Linked DNA regions of Homo sapiens. The protein of the gene in region 4 interacts with the protein of the main gene of each other region in a pairwise test. Each region holds a gene or a part of one and is shown on either strand. Other genes may lie near its edges. The genes, in order: KCTD6, GPRASP2, SH2B2 and FAM124B.

Region 1 (7,268 bases), on a different chromosome or scaffold from region 4:
TGTGTGTCGCTTTTGAGGCTGGGTTATAAAAGACATTGTGGCTTCTATCTTGCTCTCTCTTGGGTCACTTGCTCTGGGGGACGTCAGCTACCATGTTGTCAGGAGAGACTCTCATGACAAGGAATGAATGCCTTATGCTGAACGCCACATGAGTGAGTTTGGAAGGGAAGTCTCCAGGCTTCAGATGAGTGCAGCTCCTGCCGCCAATTAGACTGCAAGCTCCTGCGGGACCCTGAGCTGCTTCCAAGTTCCTGAGCCACAGAAACAGAGGGGAAAGCACTTGGAAGCCGTTTTAAGTCCCTACCTTTTGGGATTATTTGTTATGTGGCAAAAGGTAACTGATACAGTGGGTAAAAGCACCTAGCACAGTACCTTGTACAGAATTGGGGCTATAGAACAGACAAGATCTATAGCTCTGGATTCAGGATAGAGGGCTGGGCTGGAGACAGGGATTTGGAAGCCTTTGGCTCAGACACAGTAAAGGAATCCATGGAGGTGGCTGAACCATTCCATGGAGAGGGGTACATGGAGAGGAGGGGATTGTGTTGAACAGGAACTTGAGCTTAAGTGTCGGGGTAAAGCAAGAGGAGCATCTTTGTAAGTCTAAGAGGAGGAGCTATGGAAGAAGGAGGAGAACATGCATCCTAGAAGCCAAGGGAAGGGGCTGTCCCCTGGCAGACGTCACTGCAGAAGCCTTGCTGCGGAGAGGCCTGAGCCATGCAGGTCGGAGGAGGTTCTTTCAGATTTAGTATCAAGGAGGATTCTGGTGAGCCATTTAGATGGAGAGGTGGGCCCTGAGGCCAGATTGAATGTTACGGGTTGGGGTCTTAGGGGAAGTGGGGGGACACAGCAAAGGAAGAGAGGGAGGGGGACACTGTGTCGAAGGAGAAGTCTGAAAATTCTTGAGTCAGGGACAGAGACCTGAGGCTGTTTATCTGCTGATGGGCGTGGGAGATGGGGACTGGAGAGAGGGAGGGATGGAAGATCTGAGCCTGGAGAGGCTAAAGGGTGGGAGAAGGAATGGACTAGAGCCCAGGGAGGGGATCACCTGGACAGGAGGTGGAATCCCCCAGCCATCTCATGAGGGGAGGACAGTGCAATGCAGGTCATTCCAAAAGAGGGCAGAGGAGGGTTCTAGGGGGCTCCCACTGAAGGGGAAAGGTTTTCCTGACAAGTAGGAGGTGAGGTCGGCTAGGCAGTGAGAGTTGGGAGAAGGGAGAGAGGGAGGGGACTCAGATCTCCACACTTCATTGTCTTGTCAACTGCTGGTGCCCCTTTGCCCTCCCAGCACCGTGCTGGGCTTGGTTCCTTCCTGTAACAGGTGTAGCTGCAATAATAAACAGCCCCCTCCAGGTCAGCCTGGCCCCAGGGCAGACCAGGATCAGTATCTTTACCACAGGAGCCTGGATACTTGGTGGCCACCTGGAAAAGAAAGGTGCAGAGGGTCAGGGGCAGCTGTAAACCAGAAGCCAGCCTTCCCCAGCAGGCTTGCAACCCTGAGCTCTGTGGAGGCAAACAGCTTCCAATATAAACCCTTTCCACCCCCAACCCCCCAAACCAACAGATCCAGATGGTTTGCGGGAGAATCCTATAGAACATTCAAACTACAGAAAATCCCAGTCTAGTGAATAGACACTCATTCCTTAAGGTATGTTATGAGGCTCATGTAACTTTGATAGCAAAGCCAGACGAGGAGAGAATAAGCAAATAGTAGCATATCTCAGTCATCCACGTGGATACAAAAACCCTAAATGAAATATTAGCAAATGGAACCCTAAATGAAATATCAGCAAATGGAATCTAGCGGTATACTGAAAAAATAATACATCATGACGTGTGAAATTCCTTGAATAAAAATGCATTGACTTAAAAAAATACATTATCAAGGCGAGTTTATCCCGGGAATACATGGATGGTTTAATATAGTAAGATCCATGGTTGTAATTCATTACATTGCAATGGGGGGAATCTCACATTGATAAAATTCAGCACCCATTCATAGTAAAGAAGAATAGTGCTTCCTTACCCTGATAAAGAATATCTATCAAAAAATCCACAACAAACACTATAGTTAATGGTGATATGTTACAAGCAGTCAAGAACAGGATAAAAATGCCCATTACCATCACTGCTCTTCAACATTGTGTGAGAGAATTTAGTCAGCACAGTACAGCAAGAAAAAGGAAAAAAAGGACAGGAAGATACCACACTGTTATGACTTGCAGACTCTATGATTATTTGCACAGCGAATTCAAGAGAACCTACAAACTTATTAGAACTGAAAGAGTTCACTTTTGCTGAATATAAGATTATATAAAACCCAACTGCATTTCAATAGCCATCTATCAATTATAAAATACAAAAGTGAAAGTACAATTAGCACTAGTTATAAAAATTTTAAGATAGGAGGGACTAGGTCTGACAAAATCACCAACAAAATTAATCCATCAGTTTTTATATGGGGAAATAGAAGCCCTGAGAGGGGAAATGACTCTTTCAAGGATACCCAGTAAATCAGAGGCAATTCTGGGTTTTCAGTGGCACCAAATTCTGGAGATCTGAGTATTGGGTAATTTTGGTATTGTCCTTCTATTAAAAAACAACAAAACCCAGTGGGGTGGGGAGGAGTGGGGGGCAAAAAAAAAAAAAAAGAAAAACCAAACCAAAACTCATTGTATTTTTCTGATTATAAATTCAATATTTATGTGTTCTGATTATAAATTCAATATTCATGAAAATTCAGAAGAACGTTATGAAGTAATGCCATTAACATTCCCATACTGTTATCTTGAACACGATGGTCAATGGTTTGATGTATTTCCTTCAAAATTTTTGTCTGTATATATTTATGTTTTTAAAAATAAAATCAGGATATCATGTGTACTAGTTTGTGTATTGATCATTTTCACACACATTTCCCTGTATTCTCACCTAGTCTTTGTGAATTTGATAATGTAGCACTCAGTTATGTTGATGAAGCATATGTCATTTATTTAACCTATCAATTTGAGCTTTTGGAGACAAATCAAGTATCAGATATAACTGTGATGATCATGCTGATACAATTTCAACCCCAGAGCTAGCTCACACACATGCAGACGTGAAACCCAAGTGAGTTTCTAAGGCCAGTGGTTATTCTGGTGGAGAAGGTTAAACCCAGCATCAGGTAACTGGTCCCACCGGAAGGGGACAGTGGCCTGGCTAGCAGGAAGTGAATGGACTTGGAACGAGTGGACGGATGGAGACCAATTAGCCCTGAGGCGTTAGGTGCTGCCCATCCTCTGCAGCCTTGGCTTCCTTCCTGGTGAAGTGGGGACAATACCAGCGCCAGTCTCATCTAGGGTCGAGCTCCTCCAGGCCCCAGAGCCTTTGCATGGGTCGTTTTGTCTGCTGAAGGTAGCTCTGCCCTTCTCTCCACCTGGCTGCCCGTGTTGCTGAGCTTCTGGGCCCAGCAGCCCTTTGCTGTCTTGCCCGTCAGGCCGGACCAGACCGTCTTGCCCCGGTGGCCCCGGGGGCTTCTTCACAGGCCTCATCGCAGGGTTGTCTCCCCAATGCAGGGCAGGCAGGAGGAGCTCTGGCCGCAGGTCGGGGTCCAGGTCTTCCTCGGCCACTGCGTTTGGAGCAGGGGCTCCCTTCCCTTCTTCTCCATCTAAGTCCTCTAATCATGTCCCTCCCAACACTTACGGCCATAACTTGTCATTATTTTGTCTATTAGCTGTTTCCTTGAGTCTTGTCTGTCTTCTCCTTTGATTAGGACCCGCCTCCGTCTTGGTGGCCGCTGTATCTCCTAAACCCCCAGGCCTGAGATATAGTGGGGGGCCCATACAAGTTCGTGAAATGACTAAGGAGAAACAGCTGTGGAGGCACCACCCCTGAGGACGCAGTGGGCCTGGGGTTGGGCGGACCCCAGGCTGCGGGCGGAGGCGGGACGTAGGGGCGGGGTTTCGGGGCTTCGGAGCGGAGCCTAAGGGGCGGGACTGGGGCTTCGGGGCGGGGCTTCGGGGCTGCGGTCGTGTGGTCTTGACCGCGCGGCTCCGACTGCGCTGGCTGAGTTCCTCAGGCCGCCCGCTCTCTGGCTTCCAGCCCGCGCTGCCGTTAGGGGGCGCCCGCGCTCGTGGCGCCGCGGCTCTGCTGGGAAGGCGCCGCCCGCGCCGGGCAGCTGGAGCCGCAACTCCGGGCGCGGGCTCAGTCGTCCCCTCTGCCGCCGCCGCCGCCGCCGTCGCCGGGCGCGGGCTCGCTTGTCCCCGCGCTCGCGCTCTCCGGCCGCGGGCATCTCCCGGCCCGGCCGCAGCAGCCGCCGCCGCCGCGCAGTGAGTGGGGCTGGCGCGGGGCTTGCGGGGCCGGGGTTTGGGAGGGCCGGGTTTCAGGAGACGTCTGCGCCGAGCGGCCAGGGGAGCGGGGCTGAGGAGGATCTGGGCGGGGGCTCCTGGAACGGGGCGGCGGCGGGGCCGCGTTGAGGGGACCGCGCGTCCCGGGCTGGCACGAGCCAGCAGCGGAGGTGCCCGCGGCGGGGCCTGGGCGGGGGTTCCGGGGCCCGCCCGGCGGGGATGCGCGGTTTCTGCGGGCCCGGGTTCGGAGCCCCGCGGCGCGCCCCTCGTCCGGGCCCGGAGCATCGCCCGCCCTACCCCTGGCCGGGTCGGGTTGCGGGGGCTTCGCTGGCGGGGCAGCAGCGAAGGGCGGCCCGGACGGAGATATTTGGGGTGTGCTCGAAAATGATTGTTTTTGGGAGATGGCGCTTATTAGCCACCAATTGCCCTAGTTTAAAGCTTGAGGCAGGACTCAAAACCCTGCCTTTGGGATTTTCTGCCCTGAAGAGACTCTCAGATCGCAGCTGAGTTCTTTATGCCTAGATTTGTGTGTGTGTGGTGGCGTTTTTAATGCTTGATGTCAGAGGTGATAAATGGCCATGGTAATGGGGAGCCCTGGCAGCACCTGCTGGGCTGACAGTGGTGGAGGCTGTGTCTGGGGGTGGGACGGGGAAATGAAACGTGACAGAGATCCTGTTTGGATATTCTGCCGAAGTTACCATGTTTCTGTTCAAGTATACCAGTTCTAGAACAAGTTGATGGATCCAATTTTAGGACTTTGTGATAGAAGAGGTTTGGGTGGCAAAGTGACCTGGGATGACCCGGCTCGGCTAAGAATATTTGGGGTAGCCTAAGTATCTCTTCTATATCCCCCTGGCATGTTCTTTTTTTCGCTGTCACAAATGCCCTATTACTTGAATCATCCTGGGATAGGAGAGAAGCTTGGGGACAGCATGTAGCACAGTCCTGAGCCCAAGATTGAGATGTTTTCAAATGAACGAATATGTAGCTAGGAAAAGGAAAATGTGTTTGTCAGCAGGGTTGGTAGGTTGAGAGTATTTTCTCTTTGGCCGAAACCATCAGTCCATACTGATACTTGATTTTGTGCTATGCCTTAGATATGAACGATGGAGTGGTCAGGATAGCCATGGATGCCATTCCAAAGTTTTGTGATTTGAATTTTCATAAATCATATTTTAACCAAAGCATTACTACTTAAAGGAATCTTAGGGTGAACCCTATGAATCCTTCAGTGCGCTTGGATTTTGATATTTGGGGTCCATTTAAAATGGAGTACCTGTATGTATTTGGATTCAGCTTTAACTTGGAGATAATCCCGAGTCATGCTTTAAAGAAGTTCCTTCTGAGATCAGGAGCTCAGGTGTTTGGTGAACTCTGGGAAAACTAGACACTCCCCTTTACCTGTATATAGTTCTCCCTTCTGGAGCTCTGGGAAAAGGAGGACCTGGGGAGATTTGAAGCAAATTAAGAGGCTGCCTCCTCCATATTTGCCGTCTCCAGGCCAATGCTCTAAATTACTTGTGTTCACACTCAAGTTTCTCATGTTAACCTAGAAATTTTGTTTATGCTGCTGCCACTAATGTTTTCACATTTGTCTAATACTTGCTAGTTTACAGATGGTTTTATATTCATGATCTCCCTTATTTTCTCCATTTCCCCAAAGAAGAAGCTGGGCATAAAGAGTGATTTTCTCAGGGTCTCATAATCAGTAACGGAGCAGAATTCAACTACAGGACCTCCCTGGGAACCTGTTCTCTTTCCTTGTCCTGATGTGTTACTCTTATAGGCCAATTTTTGCCTTTGTGTTGTGCCTAAATGGTGTAATTACCCCGTTTTGGGAAGGTGGTATTATCCCGTTTTATCTTGCGGAAACTGAGGGTTAAGAGGAATGTTATGATTTTGTGACTATTTGTGACAGCTTTTTAATATTAGGTCACTTTTAAACCTATAGCTTCTCTCTTCTAGACCACATGGTTGAGAAAGGAGAAAGAGAAAATGATTACTTGTAGAGAAAAATCCATTTCTGCAGTGGTATGGTTAAGGATAATCTAACCATAATCACATTATCCTTGTATGCCTGGCTACTTATGCTGGCCTGTATGTGAATGTTAACCCCAAAGACTCCTTTAGATGTCGCTGAACTAGTTACTATAAAAAGTATTTCGCTTTCAAACTCCCACATTTCAAGAAGAGCAAAACTCAATACAAGGCAATTTTGAAGGTAAGTATAGAAAGAGGGAGTTTATTGAGTCTTTTCTGACTACCAGACACGAAGGTTTCAGTAAAAAAGCATTTTTAAAGGGCTGCCTGGAAACTCTGGGAAGTCAGTAGTTGGAGTTTTTTATTATTCGTTGGAGGTTTTTATTGCAACATATAGGTAGTTATATAGGATTAGGACTTTTGCCCCGGAGAATTCTTAATCTATAGCAGGAATGATAAACCCAGAATATTTTTGTTAAGTTAGTTCATCATAACCATTAGGCCTGTAATTGCAATTCTGCAGTGATAGGGAGAATGGCATTTAAGGGTTCTTAGGTTATTTTTTTAAGTTATTAACTTACTGAATTATGTATGCATTTCTTCAGATATGCTACTTTAGAAAATTAATACTTCCTTTTAAGGTTTCTATAAATTCTTCAGTATGTGTTTTCTTAAGCTTAATTACCTGCTAACATGACACTGTCAGAATTTATACATTAGTCACAATAACCTTTGAAGCTTAAACATGGTTGAATTTTCAGCACTGCTTTATATTCTTTGGGGAGTGGGCAGTGTTGTTTTCACAAGAATTTTATTTGCATCAAAGGTTACATCTTTTCAGGTGAACTGATTTTTCAGGGTCAGAGGCTTCTTTGAATTTTATAGCTGTTTGTGCTCGGTTGCATTTGCTGTCTTTCAAAACCATCTTTAGTTTTAGTAAGGAAAGTCACTATAAAGGAA
Region 2 (6,979 bases), on a different chromosome or scaffold from region 4:
TCCCCTGGTCCAAACCAGGGCTGGATTCCTTTCTGACCCTGGGTGCCAGGAAAGGTTTCAGCATCCACATTGACTAGTTCTCTATCCATAGACAGGCCCTTAGATTTAGTAACTGATCCAGACTCAGCAGTGGCCAGTGGCCAAGCAACGGCATTAGTCTGGGACACTCCTTCTGCCTGTGACACTGCTTCAGTCCCAAATTCACTCTGGGCCCATGCCTGGGCCTCATCCTTGGGCCTTGCTCCAGGGATTGCCTTGGCATCAGTTTTAGAACGAGCGCCACCTACTGCCCTGGCATCGGTTTTGGGCCTGGCCCCTGTGATTCCTTGAGCCTCCGTTTTGGGTCTTGCACCACCCATTACTTGGACCTCAGTTTTGGGCCTTGCCCCAGACATTGCTTGGGCCTCAGTTTTGGGCCTTGCCGCAGGCACAGACTTGGTCTCAGTTTTGGGCCTTGCCCCAGTAGTTGCCTGGGTCCTAACCTTGGGTCTGACCACCAGAGGGACATCATTCTCTCTCTCAGGCCCAGCGATAACCTCTTCCCCAGCCTTCTTTTCAGGCTTGGCCTGGGCACTAGGCTCAATCTCTGCCCCAGTCATGGTACAAGTTACAAAGAAAGTCAGGTAATATACTCCTCCCGTAGTCTAAACCTCAACCACAGATCTGTCACAGGTTTGTTTCTTCACACTCTGATCTTTAGGTGATTAAGGATATAAGCTTGGGAATAAGAGTTAGAGTCAATATCCAGTCCAGTAGTCACTCAGCCTCCTTCCCAAACACAGTCTCAGTCAATAATTCAATAATACAGATAGAGTGAGAACAGGTACAACCAAGCTAAAGGAAGACAGATATTTCCTGGATGGGTGCAGACCCGTTGAGGGTGGTTGTCAGCAGCAACTCCACCACCAGCAGAGCAGCCACTGGAGGTGGATCTAGGGAGAGAGAATGAAATGAGGCTTTGAGTCTCTTCCAATTGTATGAGACGTATGCAGTGCGACTGATGTTGAATGCTAGGTGGGACAGCTGGGCTTTGAGAAAGTCTCTCTGGACCGGCTGCCTCCTACAAAACAGGTCCAACAATGGTGGGAAAGTGTGTCGGCAATGGGAGGGGCCAAGAAGCCCCCAGATTGGACCCTAATCACTCCCGGACCCATGCTGGTCTCCACTACCCCGCCCAAAAGTATACCCGCTCTCATACCAACCTTCACTGATGTGGTGCAGTTTCCCCCTCCTTTTCTTGTTCAAGTGGTGTCAAGCCCCACAGCTGACAGAAGGGGGTCCTACAGACAAGTGAACATACAGGAGAGAATGGAGTGTGAGTGCTTGGTAGGTAGGTGGGCACTCTGGCCCCTGTGACAAATATCTGTCTTCCCATTCAAGAGTTCAATGTATCTATGGTTTCCTGTGTCCTAGTCCCTGCTCTCAGGTCTTTTCTGAGTCACAACCCAACCTACACCTATCTCGTGTCTCCTGCAAGAAATAAAAAGGATGCTGGCACTGTGCAAATCCGGCAGAATAGAAGTGGGTCTGCCACTTCTACTACAGGTGGAAGTGGATCTGCCACCTGCCATGCTCTCTCCAACTGTCCCCTGCATTGTCCTCTCCCCCTTCTCACTAACCTCCAGAGCTGTGAGCCAGTCTCCTCCTCCTTGCCTTTCTTGCAGAATTGGCCAGCCTTAAAGTAGGCCTATGGACAAACACATGAAAAAGTAAGACAGTCAGGATATGAGTGGTGGCAGAAGAGCACTTGGTAGACAGGCCAACGCCAAGGATAAGAGTCCCCATATTATTGGTATCTGTCTTTCAACATTCGGGGTTTTGCTGGTGGAATATTCTCGTTTTATTTGGGCCCTGCTTCAAGGTTCCAGAGATAACAACTCCTTCTCTTGACGTCATATTCTTCCCATTACTCCCTTCTCCAATTCTGAGGATTCACCACTAGGTGCGCCACATCCCCTTGCTCTGCGCAGCATAAAATGGGGGAAGGGCGCCGCATATTCTAGAAAACAGGTTGTGAATTAGTACTTGTCAGTATGTCTCCCTCATCACCCCCACCTCCAAAGCCCACCCTTTCATGCCCCCAGTTTAGGACGGTGGGGGAGACAGGTGGGGATGGAAGGTGGGGGGAGCGCCATTAGAGAGGTGAAGATTAGGAGGTGCTCCTGGATGCCTGACTTGCTCTGGTCACAGTCCCCTACCCCGATTCGGGTCCCCAATCAGTGTTTAGCGCCCAACCCCCATCCCCACACACCTCCAGAAATCCAGGCAATATTCGTGCTCCTTTATTTCAAGCCTCTCCTCTACAGACGCTCACTGTGTCCTGTCAGAATACGCCAGACCTACCGCACAGACACAAGACTTTGACATCAACCTGGAGCCTGTGGGAAGGGAAGGCACCGAGGACATGGGGCCCCACAGGCCCCTTTCGGGAATCGGGACCCGGAGTAGCAAACGCGGCTCACCTCCGGCGGACTGGGTACAGAGCCGGGACGCCGACCCCCGCCGGCCTCGCCGGGCGCCCCCCAACGGCCTTCCCGGGCGCCCCCACAGCGGCTCCCGCTCCGCCATTTCTCCCGCAGGAGCCTCCCCCACAGCCCTCTCCGGGCACAGACACCGTCGAGGGCGGGGCGCGGGCGCCTGCAAAGCTGGCTGGGAAGCGGTCAGCGCGGTTCTCCTCCAAACGATCTGGCGGTGCCTCCCGAGCCAGCCCCTCAGCCCTTGGCCAGGCCCGCTCCGGTCACCGCCTCCCCATCGCCAGGGGTCTCGGGCACTGCGCACCTCTCTCAAGCGCCTGGCTCCGACCGGATCGTCTCCTCGTTGCCAGGCTGTCAGGGTCCGCGGGGCAGGCTGCCTGCTGGTCCACCCTGCCAGACCACCCCCGCAACCCGGACCCCCACCTCATGCACCCGCACTTGCCTTCAGAGGCCCAGGGCCCAGGTCGTCGGCCTCCCCCTCCTCTCCTCAGCTCTCCTCTGGCTCACTTGGAGCCACTGCTTTCCCCGCGATCCGAACGGGAAAGACGCGTCCCGCCCCCCACGCCTCTGCACCAAAGTAGGCAGGGGCTGCGCAGGATGCGGCAAGAACCGCTCGCCGCGAGGGTGTCGGGAAGGGGGGCGGAGGGATACGGCGCGAAAGTGCTTGACGCCCCCATCCCAGGCCCACCGTAGTTCCGACCCCGAGGTGGGCAGGGCCAGGATGAGCCCCAGCCTGGGCGTGCGGGTTGGCACCAGGCTGCCTCAGGAGGCCCCCACGGACCCTAACGTGGCGACCACTACCATATTTCTGTCGCTGCTGTAATATATGGGACCAGCGGGCGGCTGGGGGCCCGGGCAGGGGACAGGATCGCGAGGTCGGGAAGAGCCGCGCTGGAGAGAACAGCGGATGGATACCAAACCGCCCCGTGATGTGTCTGCACCCCCGCCCCAACCGCCCCCCTCACAGGGACTGCTGGGTGTCTGCCCCCTCCCTCTCCCCAGTCCCCTAACCCTCCTTTCTGGAAGCTGATGGGAAAGGGGGTGTCAGCACTGCAGTGTGGGAGGGGAGAGGCGATTTCAGGCCATACAGGCCCGGGGCTCTAGGGTGGTCCTCTTGTGCGTTTCTTTCCCAGCTTCGTGGAGCCACGCAGGGGAGGAAGGTACACCTGCTCTTAAGTGAACTCCGGGGCAGGGGGCTCCCATCAAGGACTCACCACTGCCCCTCTTCTAAAAGAAGGTAGACCTAGACCTCTAACCCTAGGAAACCAACCACTGGTCTGCACCAAACTCATTCCTTTCTGCCACACTGCTCTTTCTCATTTCAAATGGTGGCTCACGTTGGCATTGCGCCGTCGCCACAGTTGCCCCCAGAAGAGGACCTTTCCCTGTCAGGACCCGCAGGAGGTCATAACAGTCCTCTCTCTTTGATGCCGCCAGGTAGGGATGGTCCTGGCTCCTCTTCGGTTCCCTGTCAAGTCTTCTCTTGCCATGACATTTGGCAGTGTGGAAATGTGGCTGGTATTCGAACCAGCTTGGATCTCAGCCACCTGCCACAACTACCTGCTGTTTCAGCAGTCATTCTCAGGAGAGGATCCCACCGTGCACCCCCCTCCCCGAGACAAAGCAACCTGGCTCCTTTTGAATCCTCTTCTTTCACCCCAACATCCGTCCTCTACTCTTGAGCCCCTCCTTTCCCTGCTTCCTGCATGGGACAGACAGAGCAATGTGGTTAAATACGAAGTTGATGTTGTTGTTACTGCTGTCCATTTGAAAACTCATTTAGGTGCTACCCTTATTGTGTTTGGCAAGTAACGGTCCCCTAAAGATGTCCATGTCCTGTTCTCCAGAACATGTACCATTTTATATTTCCTGGCAAAGGATCATTAAGATTGCTAATCAGCTGAATTTAATTTAAGATTATGCTGGATTATCTTGGCCAATGTAATTGCAAGGGTACTTTAAATGTGGAAGAGGGAGGCAGTGACTCAATATCAGATTGAAGCATCATGAGAAGGTCTACACTGGCCATTGTTGGCTTTGAAGATGGAAGGAAGCCAAGATCCAAGAAATACAGGCTGTCTCCAGAACCTGGAAAAGACAAAGAAACAGATTCTTCCCTAGAAATGCCAGAGGGATAGCTCCTCTGGCAACATCTTGATTTTAGTGTAATGAAACCCTTTGCAGATTTCCAGCCTCTAGGACTGTAAGATAATAATAAATTTGTATTATTTTAAGCCCTTCTATGTGTGGTAATTGGTTAAAGCAGCAGTATGAACCTAATACACTCACCATCCTGATGAAGTCTATTCCCCTTGACTTTCTTTACCCGTGGATCAGTCTCTGGGGAAGATCTATTTTGGAGCTCATGCCTCACCACTACAAACATCAATTGCCTCTTCTTTGCTTCCTAAAGGACAGTGATTTTTTTTATGTCCCTTATAGGTAATCTTGGAGAAAGTTCCTTTTTGCTGAAACCACTGATATTTCCCAGGTACAAAAGGGAACCCTATTCTTTTGTTGTTGTTGTTGCTGGTTTTGAGAGGGACTATCGGTGTTGTTGCCCAGGCTGGCTGGAGTGCAATGGTGCCATCTTGGCTCACTGCAACCTCCGCCTCCTGGGTTCAAGTGATTCTCCTGCCTCAGCCTCCTGAGTAGCTGGGATTACAGGTATGCCCCAAGACGCCTGGCTTATTTTTTGTATTTTTAGTAGAGATGGGGTTTCTTTATGTTGGTCAGGCTTGTCTGGAACTCCTGACTTCAGGTGATCTGCCTGCCTCGGCCTCCCAAAGTGCTGGGATTACAGGCGTGAGCCACCGTGCCTGGCCAGGAGCCCTATTCTTATGATGAATTTTCATATATTTCCATACAGCTTTTGTTACCAGATATTTACTATAACTGTACAATATTTTGCTGATATGAAGAAAACATGTGAGGATGATTCTGTACCACATCTGGAGATGAATGTTATGTATTAGAGGAAGACCACGTTAACTCTGCCTTTTTCATGGCCTTAACTGAATGGTGGATTTTCTCTGTTCCACAGCATACTCTCATGAATGAATTACAGGCTTGGGAGAACAGAGCCTGGGTCTGCTGGAATTTGTTGGCGCGTGTACATCTCTTTGCCTTCCTGAGCTGTTCTTCCCCTTTCATAACGTTACTGATGCCTTTCATTTATTCAACAAATATATATTGAGCTCCTACTTTCTCCTAGGCAGTGGGCATACAGTATAAACCAAAGAGAAATGAATCCCCTTTCTTGTGGTGCTTACATTCACCTGTGGTTTCCTGTTCAATTCCCTATTCTGAAAGTTTGCAGATGTATCGAAAACTATGCCAGCACAAGTTACTGTGGTAATTCTGGAGGCGCTGGGATCTTGCTCTCAAGATATTTACCTATAGAGGGGTGGTTCTACCAAAAGCTGATCAATTTTACTGTGAGAATTTGAAACGTGTTGGGCAATTTGATGTCAATTCGTTTAGAAAACAGGGACTATGATAGACATTTACTGAACTGAGAAAGGCCCTGTTCTAACCTCTTTGTGTGTAAAGACATTATAGACTATTACCAGAATGTATTATAACTACCTCCTTATACCAGATGAGGAAACCAGCTCGGATAGTTTGTCATTTTTAAAGTGGAGAGTAAATAAAAAGTTAAAAGAAGATGCTGACCTATGCCTGTCTGACTGGTACAAGCTATTTATTTCCTCTTAAAATGTGTTCCAGTCTAATAGATTGCATCAGCCATGGTTTTACTCCTCAGTGCCTCCACCAGCACCTGTGTAACCCTGACTGGCTCCTAAAATCTAAATTTCCAAAACAAATAACTCACAAGCATTAAGCCCAGGACAAAGAGGCAGCTGTACTGACTCATGATACCCACCTCTCTGTCCCCAACCCCACCCCATCTCCCACATGCACGCTTGTGAACTTGCACACTCGTATATCCCTTGCCTGTGCAGCAGCTTGCATTACTTCCTTTTGTCCCTCTTACTCACTGTGGACAAGGACCTGTTTTAACCCTTTTAGCTTAACTTTGGACTTTCTACTGTCATTTTCATTTGCAATTCCCCAGACATGTGATATTTAGTATGTATTCATATGCTCATTTGCCATCTGAATATGTTTTTTGGCCAAGTGTCTGTTCCCATCATTTACCCAATTTTAAAATGGGTTGATTGTTTTCTTATTGTTAAGTTTAAGAATTCTTATGTATATTTTGGATAGCAATCTTTTATCAGATGTCTGTTTTGCAAATAGTTTCTCTGTGGCTTCTCTTTTTCAATCTCTTAACAGTTTATTTTGTAGAGGAGAATAATCTTTAATGAGACCCAACTTATCAATTTGTTCTTTCATGGATCATGCTTTTGTTGTATCTAAAAAGTTGTTGACAAACCCAAAGTTACCTAGATGTTCTATTATGTTATCTTCTAGAAGTTTCATAGTTTTGCCTTTTAAACTTAGGTTAGTATCTGTGAAAGGGGTAAGGTCTTTGTCTATTT
Region 3 (4,376 bases), on a different chromosome or scaffold from region 4:
CCTGTCCACACCGCCAGGCTTCTTCCTGCCCTGCCGCCCTGTCCACACCGCCAGGCTTCTTCCTGCCCTGCCGCCCTGTCCACACCGCCAGGCTTCATAGATCTGTCTAAAAACGCCTTTACCCTCCCAGTCCGGGCCTCGACTCCTCCTCCTGGCATCCAAGCTCTCCGTATGACTTGGGCGTGCTCCCCATCCCTCACTGTGTCCTGAATGCCCCCTCCTCTCTTTTCAGCACCCCTCATTGTTACCACCTCCCATCTCTCTCCCTCACAGCTCCAGTAAAGCCCCCTCCCGATCCTAAGCCCTAACCCTTGCTGTTGGGCCCTCTTTCAGGTGCTGCCCGACGCCCCATGGGGAGTCCCTCAGCTGTCCCACCAGAGACAGAGCTGCAAGGGGGCCTGGCAGGTGTCAGGCCACACTGGGCTGGACGGGGGTCCCTGATGGACGGGTGTCTCTGAGAGTGGCTGCCCCGCAGTCCCCGCCTTCCCCGTGGGAGAAAGGACGACAGGAGAGCCGGGTGCAGTCCCTAAAACAGGCTTTTAATAACATCGTGTCTTCACTGAAGAGCTTGGCGTGTCCCACCCGGGCGGCGCCGCGGGCTAGTAGAAGGAGTACTGGTTCTCCACGGCGCGCGCGCGGCCGGGCGCGGCCTCCGGGGGCTCCTCGGCGGCGGTGGCGGCCACGGCCTCCAGCAGGCGCTCGGCGCTGTTGCTGCGGCTCCGCGCGCTGAGCTGGCCCTCGACGGGGCGCGGGGGGGCGGGCCCCGACGCGGCAGAGGACGACGAGGCGGAAGACGAGGAGGCGCCGGCGGCGTCGGAGGGCGAGGCAGGCGGGCAGGCGGCCGCGGCGAGGCTGGAGAAGTAGTGCTGGCCGGGCGAGTCGCTCCAGCAGGCCGGGGACGCGGGCGCGGCAGGGGGCGTGGGGCCCGGCTCTGCAACAAGGCGACGGCAGGGCGTGAGTGGGGACCTGGGCTGGCCACATCCTGCAGGGAGGCCGGGATCCCTCAAGGGGCCAGGGCCCACGCTCAGGTTTCCGAGTTGCAGCCCATGTCCTCGGACACATATGCAAGCACACCCGCCCACATGCATAAACAGAAGCACACACACATACATGTACCTAACCACGCGTGTGCACGCCCATATAGCCACATGCACAGGAGTGCACACACACGCATACATAATGCACACGCTCGCACACAGGCACACAAGCACACGCGTGCCCATGCACGCATGCACACGCTCATGCATATGCGCACACACGCACACGTAAGCGTACGCACACGGGCACATGCACACATACACTCATGCACACACACAAGCACACGCATGCACATGCACCCATGCCCTTAGTGCTCGGTCCCAGCAGCTTTGCTCTGAGCCTCCCCAGTGCAGGGCTTAAGAATCCATATGCCCAGCTCCTTTCATCCCACTTGCCCCAATCCACACCCCTGTCCCCACCCCCATACACCCACCTGCACTGCTGTTGGGCGCCCCCTTCCCCTTGCCAGGAATCATTAGGGACCTGGCTGCCTCTAGGCTGCCACTTCTGCCTCCATTCCTTATGACGTGACTGCTTGAAATTGCTGTGGCTAGGCTAGGGTGGGAGGGACACGGCTGAGGCTATGGGACAGGAGACCTGGGGCTCATCCCACCCCAGGGACCACCTTCTTGAGTAATCAACGGGAAGTCTTCTTGAGTAATCACACCAGCCAGGTGGCGGCATCTTACCTGGTGGGGGGTCCTGGGCCCGCACATAGCTGCGAAGGGTGATGTCGGCCGAGCCCCCTGACTCCAGTGGGATGGGGTGTGTGTGGAAGTGGCGGAGCATGTCAAGCACAGACTGGAACCACAGATGCTGTACGTGACACTGGCCGTGGCCGTTCAGGGACAGGCGCAGGTGCTGTGGGTACAGGTGGGTGTGGTCAGGGGCAGGTCCGGGGCTGGGCACCTGGGTAAGCGCCTTTGGGGGTTGATGGAAGGACCAAGGCTCACAGGGGCTGTATGGGGCTGTGTCAGGGCCGGGGGCCCCTCACACATGAGCCCCATCTGGAGATGGGGAATGGGGGCAACGGACCCAGGCTGAGATGGAAGGCATCAGGCATTGTCCCCATGCTGGGAGCACCTCCACTATGGGCCCATGCCCTACACACCTATAATCTCTAATCCCCTCCCTAATGCCAGAAGATAGGGATTACTGCCCCCATGTTAGAGATAGGAAAACCAAGGCCCAGGGAGGGGGAGTGACTGGCCCATGGTCACAGAGCACAGAGCAGGGAAGAAAACTCCTGTTTGGGTGGTTCCCCCAGCCCAGGAGGCTAGAGGTTGGCCCTCTGTCCCTGCAGAGCCAAAACCCGGAGGCATGGAAAGCTCCCCAGGGCTGGCTGGGGAGGAGTGACCGCACGCTGTGGGAACAGCTGGAACAGGGCTGGCTTCTCTCTAGGTCTCTAGGGCCTGTGTGAGGCAGGTGCCTCAGGGTAAGAAACCATAGGCCTGTGGTGTCTAGTGGAGAGCTGCAGGTCTCTGACTTAAGCCCTATTTTGCTCAACATGTATCCCACTGCAGAAACAAGTGGCTATCTCTGGGGTGTGTGGGGCAAGAGGGGAGCTAAGAGGAGTGGTTTGAGGGTACACGCATAGCCCCAAGCCCAGGAGGGGGAGCTGGTCTGGCCACCTGCATAAAAGACAGACAATCTGCTAGGTGTGGTGGCTCACGCCTGTAATCCCAGCACTTTGGGAGACTGAGGGGAATGGATCACGGGAGGTCAGGAGTTCAAGACCAGCCTGGCCAACATGGTGAGATACCCCCCAACCCTTTAAAAAACAAACAAAAAAATACAGACAATCCCTGGAGCGGGGTGGCGGTCCCACAAGTGAGCTCTGCCACTTAGCAGAATAAGTTGCTAGGACAATGCAGGGACTCAGCCCGAAAGAAACAGCACAGAGGGGTCCCACCACAGCCTCATAGCTGGGCAGAGCCTGCGCAGGGCACAGCTGGGTCCCTGGGGAGAGAAGAAGCAAGTTGGACGCATCCCAATCTTCTGCCAGACCTTCCAGACATTTATTCTGTGAAGGTGGAAAGAGTTGCCTCTGGGAAGGTAGTGATCTTCCCTCCCAGGAGGTATGTAAGCTGGAGGCTGGGGTTCCTGCTTTGTCCCACCATTTACTTATCAGGCCTGGGGCAGTCATCTCCACTCTGGGAGAAGAGCAGCTGGGTAGAGAGGTGAGAGGCAGGTTCAAGGCTGGGTCTTGTTCCAGGAAGGAGAGGAGCTTGCCACCCACCCTTTGTTCCCCCATCCTAGCCTCTGGCTTGGGCATGAGTCAGATCCAGGCCCTCTGGGAGGCTGCCTGGAGCAGCACTGGCTGAGAAGTAAATTGCACGTCACCAGGGATGGCCTTAAGCACCTGGTTGTCGGAGGAACTGTAAGGGTGGCTGCTTGCCAAGGAAATGTCCCTGGTGGAGGTGCTACCTCCTGCATGGTGGGGCCAACCTGGAGGAGGAGAGAAGCCACCAGAGGTTCTGCACTGAGCCACTAGGGGTTAGGGCAGCCGGGGTCCCTGCAGAGAGACACTGTCCCCCAGCTGCAGGCCTGGAGCAGGAGTCCTAAGGTTCTCCCTCCTCTAGTAGGGGCCGCCAGGAAATCCGTCCTGGCAGGAGCCCAGGCTGAGTGTTTCCTTATCGGAAACCTGGGATGCGGGGGTGGGCACTGAGGTTCCTGCCCCCTCTGGCCACATTGCACCCCCCCATAATCATTTGCCTTTGCTGTCAAATTTTCCTTTGAATTTCAGGTCAATAGGCCGGGCGTGGGGGCTCACGCCTGTAATCCCAGCACTTTGGGAGGCTGAGGTGGGTGGATCACCTGAGGTCAGGAGTTTGAGACCAGCCTGGCCAACATGGTGAAACCCTGTCTCTACTAAAAATACAAAAATTAGCCAGGTGTGGTGGTACGTGTCTGTAATCCCAGCTACTTGGGAGGCTGAGGCACAAGAATCGCTTGAACCCGGGAGGCGGAGGTTGCAATGAGCTGAGATTGCGATGTTGCAATCCAGCCTGGAGGATAGAGCGAGACTGTCTCAAAAAAAAACAAAAACAAAAACAAAGCATTTCAGGTCAATATAGCAAGGAATCCTCTTCCTTGAAAGCACACCGCCTGGGTGTACCATCATGCCTCTGATCCAGCTGGGTGCTGTTGGGATCGCCTTCCTGACTGTCTTCCCCTCCACAATTCTCCCTCCCCTGCAGGTCTCTGATCAGGCTGTCCCCTCCAATGCTGAACCCCACCCCCTAGACCCTGCACAGCTCTCCCACCCAGCCCAGCTCCTCCTCCCCTGCTGGGTCTCTAGGGTTTGCCCGTGTGTGTTCCTCAGGGGTTGGTGACCT
Region 4 (7,041 bases):
GCTGTCTGCCCAGCCAAAGCCATGTTCTGAAGTCCTCATAACACACTCCACTCTCCATTTTGCCCTGGGTGCCACTTAAACATTGCTTGTCTCTTAAACTGGGTACTCCTGGAATCCTATCCTCTTCCTTCTTCTGTCCTTGTTGTGTCTTCTCTTTCTGGGTAGTCACATCCTTTCCCATGGCTGCCTGAAGACCAGCAGTTCCCCAATTCCTATTCTCTGGTTTACTGTTCCCTTCAAAGCTGTAGTGAACAGGCCACTGGACATCTCAACTCTGGCCATCCCACGGGCATCCATGCACAACACAACCACCCTGCCCTCCTCATCCTCACTCCTAACTGCCCTCCTTTCCAGTATTCCTTATCTGGTGACTGACAGCTTCACCCAAACATCTGCAAGTACCACCCTGGAATGCCTCCTGGACTAGCCACCACGGTTTTCTGCCTGCATCCAACCAGCCAACAAACCTGTCCTTTGACTGCATATCTTGCTGTGTCCGTGGCTTCCTCAAAGCATCACTTCCCTTTTCATACTGACTTTTAGGTGGTTCTGGTCAGATTCAAATAAAGTGTTCTGCAAGGCCCTTCCTGATCAGGCCCCTGGCTTCCTTCCACCCTCCTCTTCATTGAACCTCCACTCCAGCCACCTTGAACTGCTTGCAGTTGCACCAGTGTGTGACAGTCCTGGCCCCCTCGTCTAACTCAGTGTCTCCCCATGGGGTCTCCATACATCCTGCAGCACCCTTTATCATGGCACTGACTGCATCATTTAGGGTGCCCCTCCAAAGTGGGGGATGGTGACGATTCTATCTTCTGCTCCTGGTGCAACGCCTGGCTCTTGACATGTGAGATAAACATATTTTATAAATTAAAGATGGAAAGGAACTTTTTCTCAGAGTTTTCCTGGGTTGGGGGTGGGTGGGAATCTCGAGGTTATAATGCATCCCATTGTATTTTGTAGAAAGGACAAATCCCCGAGGATTTTCATGGGTTCCAATGGAGCCTCGGATTTTCTAGGTTTGCTTGAGCGACTCATCACCAGCCTCTCCATTTGCTGTGAGGAGTGGACCAACCATCTGCCATCCAGGAGCTGATGACTGCAGAAACCTGGGCATCATTGCCTGCCAAGTTTAAGAAAAATAAGATAGAGAATTGGAGTGACAGCTGTCCGGGTGCTGAGAGTCAAAGCTGATGATTTCCCTTAGTATTTTTGTCTGTGCCTTCAACAGAAGCACCATGCTAAAACACTGTTGTGCTGCACAGCTGAGAATCTGGCATTTGTTGTGGGTGGAAGGCAGTGACCAAAGGTGGAGGCAGTTTGGGGAAGGTCAGTCAGTATTTCACGTTGTTCCTGGGGAAATAATCACAGAGACAGCCAGTCAGAAATGAGGCTGGTCCCCCTCTTCCCTGGCCTCCTGCCCCTTGGATTTGTTGGCACTTTGGCTGCCAACAGATTAATGAAATCTTTTCAATCCTGAAAGAAATGACAACCTCATCAGGAAAAAAGTGTATTTTCAGCATTAGATGGAAGATAATATCAAGAAACAAAATCTTTTCCTATGTAAGAGCTTTAATACTTACCTTGTGCAAAATGTTGTGAGTTAATATCGTGGTTTCAGGGGAACAATTTTTCTCCTCAAATCTTTAGAGTTATTTCCAGAATTTCAAAGCCTATTTCAAAAACTATAGTTTTGTCTAAAGTACAATCAGCTCTGTGAATGGAAGGGTTGCGGAAGGGAGAGTGTTCACACTGAGAGATGAGATAGTTATCTGCTTCCAATGCCAATGCATAACATGAATGCTGTCGAGTTTTTTTTAAAAAAGCTTGAGATTTGTAATGCCAAAAAAAAAAACCTCTAATGATTTTTTTAAAAGTTGAAACAAGATGAATTTAATTACTGAGCTGCTCACAATAACTAGGAAACAATTCCTCTGTTATAAATTGTATTTATGTATTTTTCCCATGCAAAAAGTACAGGAATTATGAAACACAAATGATTAGAATTGTACGTTAGATTTACATAGTGAATCTGAATAGAAATAACTCCTTTTCTTGGATAATAATATTTTACTTTAAATTAGGTTGTTATACTATTAAAGGAATCCAGATATATAAAGTTGTTATATTTTTCATCACAAAAGTATTTTTTAATGTAAAAAATTGTCACACTGTGTTTCATTATAAGGATTCATAAATTTGCCTCTTTTATTTTAATTTTTTACAGCTCTTTTTGAAGTACATTTTTTTTCTTTGAGACAGGGTCTTGCTCTGTTGTCCAGGCTGGAGTGCAGTGGCATGAATTTAGGTCAGCACAGCCTGGAACTCCTGGGCTCAAGCGATTGTCCTGCTTTGGCCTCCCAAAGTGTTGAAATTACAGTTGTGAGCCACTTCGCCTGGTCCAATTGCCTCTTTTAAAAAGAATTGTGTTTAGAAAAAGTGCTTGTTCATACCTGTTGAGGAGCACAGCTATCAGGAGAGCAAATGATTTTTTAAAAATATTTATTTATTTATTTATTTTTATTATTTTTTATTTTCTGAGACGGAGTCTTGCTCTATCACCCAGGCTGGAGTGCAGTAGTGCGATCTGCAACCTCCACTTGCTGGATTCAAGTGATTCTTGTGCCTCAGCCTCCTGAGTAGCTGGGATTACAGGCATGCTCCACTTTGCCCGGCTAATTTTTGTGTTTTTAGTACAGACGGGGTTTTGCCATGTTGCCTAGGCTGGTCTCGAACTCCTGACCTCAGGTGATCCACCCGCCTCGGCCTCCCAAAGTACTAGGATCAAGGCGTGACGACTATGCGTGGCCACAAATAATTTTTAAATCAATATTTAGAACACATTTAGGGTGAGTGTTTAGAGCTTGACAACTTTCTCATTGAAGATTATTCCGTTTAAGATTCAACAGCTCAAGAGTCTGCAAATCTAGATCCTTAACCAGAACTTGCTTTTATATCTTTTCCTTACAAGAAGAATACCCAGGCTGGGACTTCAAGGCCCCAGAGAGGCAGTGCAGCAAGTTCCTGGGTTCAAATCATCCTTCAGCTACTTCTTAGCTGTGAGACCTTGGGCAAGTTACCTAGCCTTTCTATGCCCCAGTTTCTTCATCTGTAATTTGGGGCTAGTAATCTCTTCTTCATAGGTTTGTTGCAAGATTAAATTAATTTACATTAAGGGCCAGGTGTGGTGACTCATGCCTGTAATCCCAGCACTTTGGGAGGCCAATGCGGGCAGATCACCTGAGGTCAGGAGTTCGAGACCAGTCTGGCCAACATGGCAAAACCCAGTCTCTACTAAAAATACAAAAAAATTAGCTGGGCGTGTTGGCGCACTTATAATCCCAGGTACTGGGGAGGCTGAGGCAGGGGAATCTCTTGAACCTGGGAGGTGGAAGTTGCAGTGAGCCAAGATCACGCCACTGCACTCCAGCCTGGGCGACAGAGCAAGACTCCATCTCCAAAACAAAACAAAACTAATTACTTTAAGAATTAGAACAGTTTATGACTGGTACATAGTAGATCCTCATTAGACACTAAAAATTATAATTACAATTGTTAATTATAATTATTTATTATTATAATTATATGAGCAATTATAGGAAAGCTCTCACTCTTTCTAAAGAATTTGCGTGAATAAAGGAAGACTAATTTTCTCAATGTCTTTTTAGTACACTCAGAATTTTCGGTACAGCAAATAATTTTCAGTGAAGTCAAAATTATTTAGATAAAGTCTTCTCTTCGTGCCCTAGCAGAAAATGTTCAGAAACAAAATGAAATAAAGAGACAAAGGAAAAAAAAAACTGGCAAAGGGTCAGGTTTTGAGAATTGTTTTCAAGAAGTCATTGTATTCAGATTGGTGGAGCAGGCTACTGTAAACCGTAAGTAGGAAATGAGAACCCGTTGTAAGTTGATAAAATGGATGTCTTTTCAACTAAACAGATTGCTATCAGCCTAACAGAGCCAACTCATGTTCCTTTTCGGCCGGTCATTTCCTGTACTAAGTGTCTATAAGAGCCGCCCATTTGGGTGTTTCTCAGGATTATAGGTTTTTAGGTCACGCAGAAACCCTGGGGAACGCCTGAAAAGGCTAAACACAAGCAGTTACATTATGCACAAGCTGGATGACGTGACCCCGCTGCTGCTGTGTGGAGAGGGAGGCTGCTGAACCCGAGCTGGTGTGAGCTTCTCTTGCCGTAAGTCCACGGGTGGCCAGGAGCACGTGTTAGTCTGGTTAAGAGCTCTGCTCAGAAGTAGCCGCTGCAGCTGAAGGTTTTCAGGCGGGCTGAAGGCTGGGCCGCTTCTTCATTCATTTCAGAAACTTGAACAGTGGGCCTTCTACACACGCTGTCTTTGTCAGCCTCAGGCAGTTCCTCCATGGATGAGACACAGGGGCCTCTGGCCATGACTGTCCATCTTCTTGCCAACTCTGGGCACGGCTCCCTTCTGCAGAGGACTCTGGACCAGCTCCTGGATTGCATTTGCCCAGAGGTCCGGCTCTTTCAGGTGTCTGAACGGGCCAGTCCTGTGAAATACTGTGAAAAGTCCCATTCCAAGCGGTCCCGGTTTCCAGGGATGTCCGTGTTGCTCTTCCTGCACGAAAGCCCGGGAGAGGATAGGCTATTTCGCGTCCTGGACTCTCTCCAGCATTCGCCATGGCAGTGCTACCCCACCCAGGACACTCGGGGAAGGCTGTGTCCCTACTTTTTTGCCAATCAGGAGTTCTACAGCCTGGACAGTCAGCTGCCCATCTGGGGGGTGAGGCAGGTGCACTGTGGCTCCGAGATCCTGAGGGTGACGCTGTACTGCAGTTTTGATAACTATGAAGACGCCATCAGACTCTACGAGATGATCCTGCAGAGAGAAGCGACCTTGCAAAAGAGCAATTTTTGTTTCTTCGTGCTCTATGCCTCCAAGAGCTTTGCTCTGCAGCTCTCCCTGAAGCAGCTGCCCCCGGGAATGTCAGTGGACCCCAAAGAGTCTTCGGTGCTGCAGTTTAAGGTTCAAGAGATCGGCCAGTTAGTGCCTCTGCTACCCAATCCATGCATGCCTATCAGCAGCACCAGGTGGCAGACTCAGGACTACGATGGCAACAAGATTCTGCTTCAGGTATTTCTGTTTTGTCTCAGATCTTGTAGAGGCTCATGGAGCTGTGTAATTTTACATCGGAATGGGCCTAAGCTAGTGGTTCTCAGACTTGGTTGCATATTAGCGTCCCTTAGGGTCTTTCATAAATTCCCACCCCAGGGCAGTTTGATCCGAATCTCTGGGAACATCCAGGCCTAGGTAACTTTTTTACAGCTTCTTGGATGACTGTAATCTGTAACAGGGTTGAGAATCACTGATCTCATAAAATCTCATCTGACAGATAAGAAAGTTCAGATTCCATGAATTTGCAGCTGACACAAGTACTTTATAGTAGAATCAGACAGGATTCTACTATAAAGATCAGAATCCTATTAAAGAATCGGCCTCCTTTCTCAGGCTTGCCGTTTAAATGCCCATCAACTATACCCCTATCCTTTGTTTACTCTTTGGGCTCAGGAATGTCACAAGCTCTTCTAATCTGACTTAAGGAAGTTGAAGTCATACTTATGTTTAGATATGGTTTTTTTAATTTTTAATTTTTTTATTTTTTAGAGATGGGAGTCTTCCTCTGTTGCCCAGACTCGAGTGCGGTGGTGCCATCATAGCTCCCTGAGGTCTTCACCTTCTGGGTTCAAGTGATCCTCCTGCCTTAGCCTCCTGATTAGCTGGGACTACAGGCACGTGCCGCCATGTCTGGCTATTTTATTTTATTTCTAGAGACGGGGTCTCACTATGTTGGCCGAGCTTGTTTAGGGATGTTAAGTTTGCAGTACTATTGACTTAATTTTTATTCTTTATTATTATACTTTAAGTTCTGGGGTACATGTGCACAAAGTGCAGGTTTGTTACACAGGTATACATGTGCCATATTGGTTTGTTGCACCCATCAACTCGTATTGACTTAATTTTTAAGCATCTTGCATCACTGTCAAATTTTACCACATACCAAGTTAGATAGAATGCTTTCTTAAAAAAACTTGAAATTAAAGCCTTCCTTTGTAACCATCCTCGAAAACCTAACATAGCATGTGTGTATTTAGTCATGATAGCTGCCGTGCATTGCCTTTCCATGGTATGTGAGCCTGGGCACTTAGTAGCTGTATGACTGTGGGCCTCAGTTTCTTCATTAGCACAATAAAGGCACCCGAGAATTAGCATCTTCCTCTCTCATACTTACTTACAGGAAATGACCTGACACTTATAAAGTACATAATTAAGATAGTGCCAAGAACTCAATTTTAGCTATTATTGTTCATATTATGCCCTATACTAAGGATTCTCTTAAATTGATAATTTTATTTAATACTTATAACAACCTATGAAGTTACTATTTTTCCCATTTTGGAGATAAGAAAACTGAGCTTTCCAGGGGGTCAGTTATTTGCCCAAGATAGGAAGTATCTATCTACCCTCAAAGTTCATGTGGTCAGCCGCTGCAGTCCAGTGTATGTGTGTAAATGTGCAAGCAGGGGGATGAATGTCATGTTCACAGCAAAATATCCTGTGGCTTCTGTCCTTAAGAAATGGTCAGAAGCTCCTTAAGGCCTATTGAATAAAGTAATAAGAGACTACAAGATGAGATGTCTTTCCATTTGGTTAATTTTGTTGTCATCACTTTGACTTGTTAATAAAACATGAATCATATTCCATATTAAATGATTTCTAAATTATTCACCTTCTTGCTCACATAAGGTAGACAGGCACTGTTTCTGTTAGTTGCCTATTATAAAACCCCATAATTTCCAAGGCATCTAAAATTTCTTTCAGTTTTAGCGACTCTCTAGTACTTAAAATCAACCTCATGGTCAAACAAAAATGTAATGTGTGTGTGCAGCAAGGGACATGATTTTAATCATTCCTGTCTTTAAGGCTGACTGACATTTTTGCTATGGAACCACAGTTTAAACAACTTAGTTACTTTGGAAAGTTGAGTCACATTTGGGGAGTGTAGAAGAGTTT

What was found.
Region 1: the proteins of FAM124B (region 4) and KCTD6 interact in binary tests that used the Homo sapiens proteins (3 or more experiments, as listed by UniProt).
Region 2: the proteins of FAM124B (region 4) and GPRASP2 interact in binary tests that used the Homo sapiens proteins (3 or more experiments, as listed by UniProt).
Region 3: the proteins of FAM124B (region 4) and SH2B2 interact in binary tests that used the Homo sapiens proteins (3 or more experiments, as listed by UniProt).

What each region holds. Positions count from the first base shown.
Region 1 is NC_000003.12:58,487,860-58,495,127, forward strand, and holds the start of KCTD6 (BTB/POZ domain-containing protein KCTD6), read left to right. Parts: upstream 1-4,236; 5' UTR 4,237-4,310; exon of another isoform or gene 4,311-6,549; intron 6,550-7,268. UniProt on the Homo sapiens protein: Probable substrate-specific adapter of a BCR (BTB-CUL3-RBX1) E3 ubiquitin-protein ligase complex mediating the ubiquitination and subsequent proteasomal degradation of target proteins.
Region 2 is NC_000023.11:102,708,490-102,715,468, reverse strand, and holds the start of GPRASP2 (G-protein coupled receptor-associated sorting protein 2), read right to left. Parts: upstream 3,022-6,979; 5' UTR 2,917-3,021; intron 2,630-2,916; exon of another isoform or gene 2,463-2,629; intron 2,379-2,462; exon of another isoform or gene 2,340-2,378; 5' UTR 2,252-2,339; intron 1,688-2,251; 5' UTR 1,620-1,687; intron 1,281-1,619; 5' UTR 1,203-1,280; intron 1,061-1,202; exon of another isoform or gene 933-1,060; 5' UTR 600-932; coding exon 1-599. Other genes in the region: ARMCX5-GPRASP2 (G-protein coupled receptor-associated sorting protein 2), read right to left, coding at 1-599. UniProt on the Homo sapiens protein: May play a role in regulation of a variety of G-protein coupled receptors.
Region 3 is NC_000007.14:102,317,854-102,322,229, reverse strand, and holds the end of SH2B2 (SH2B adapter protein 2), read right to left. Parts: intron 1,900-4,376; coding exon 1,728-1,899; intron 932-1,727; coding exon 600-931; 3' UTR 519-599; downstream 1-518. UniProt on the Homo sapiens protein: Adapter protein for several members of the tyrosine kinase receptor family. Involved in multiple signaling pathways. May be involved in coupling from immunoreceptor to Ras signaling. Acts as a negative regulator of cytokine signaling in collaboration with CBL.
Region 4 is NC_000002.12:224,399,099-224,406,139, reverse strand, and holds the start of FAM124B (protein FAM124B), read left to right. Parts: upstream 1-4,032; 5' UTR 4,033-4,371; coding exon 4,372-5,103; intron 5,104-5,634; coding exon of another isoform or gene 5,635-5,721; exon of another isoform or gene 5,722-5,763; intron 5,764-7,041.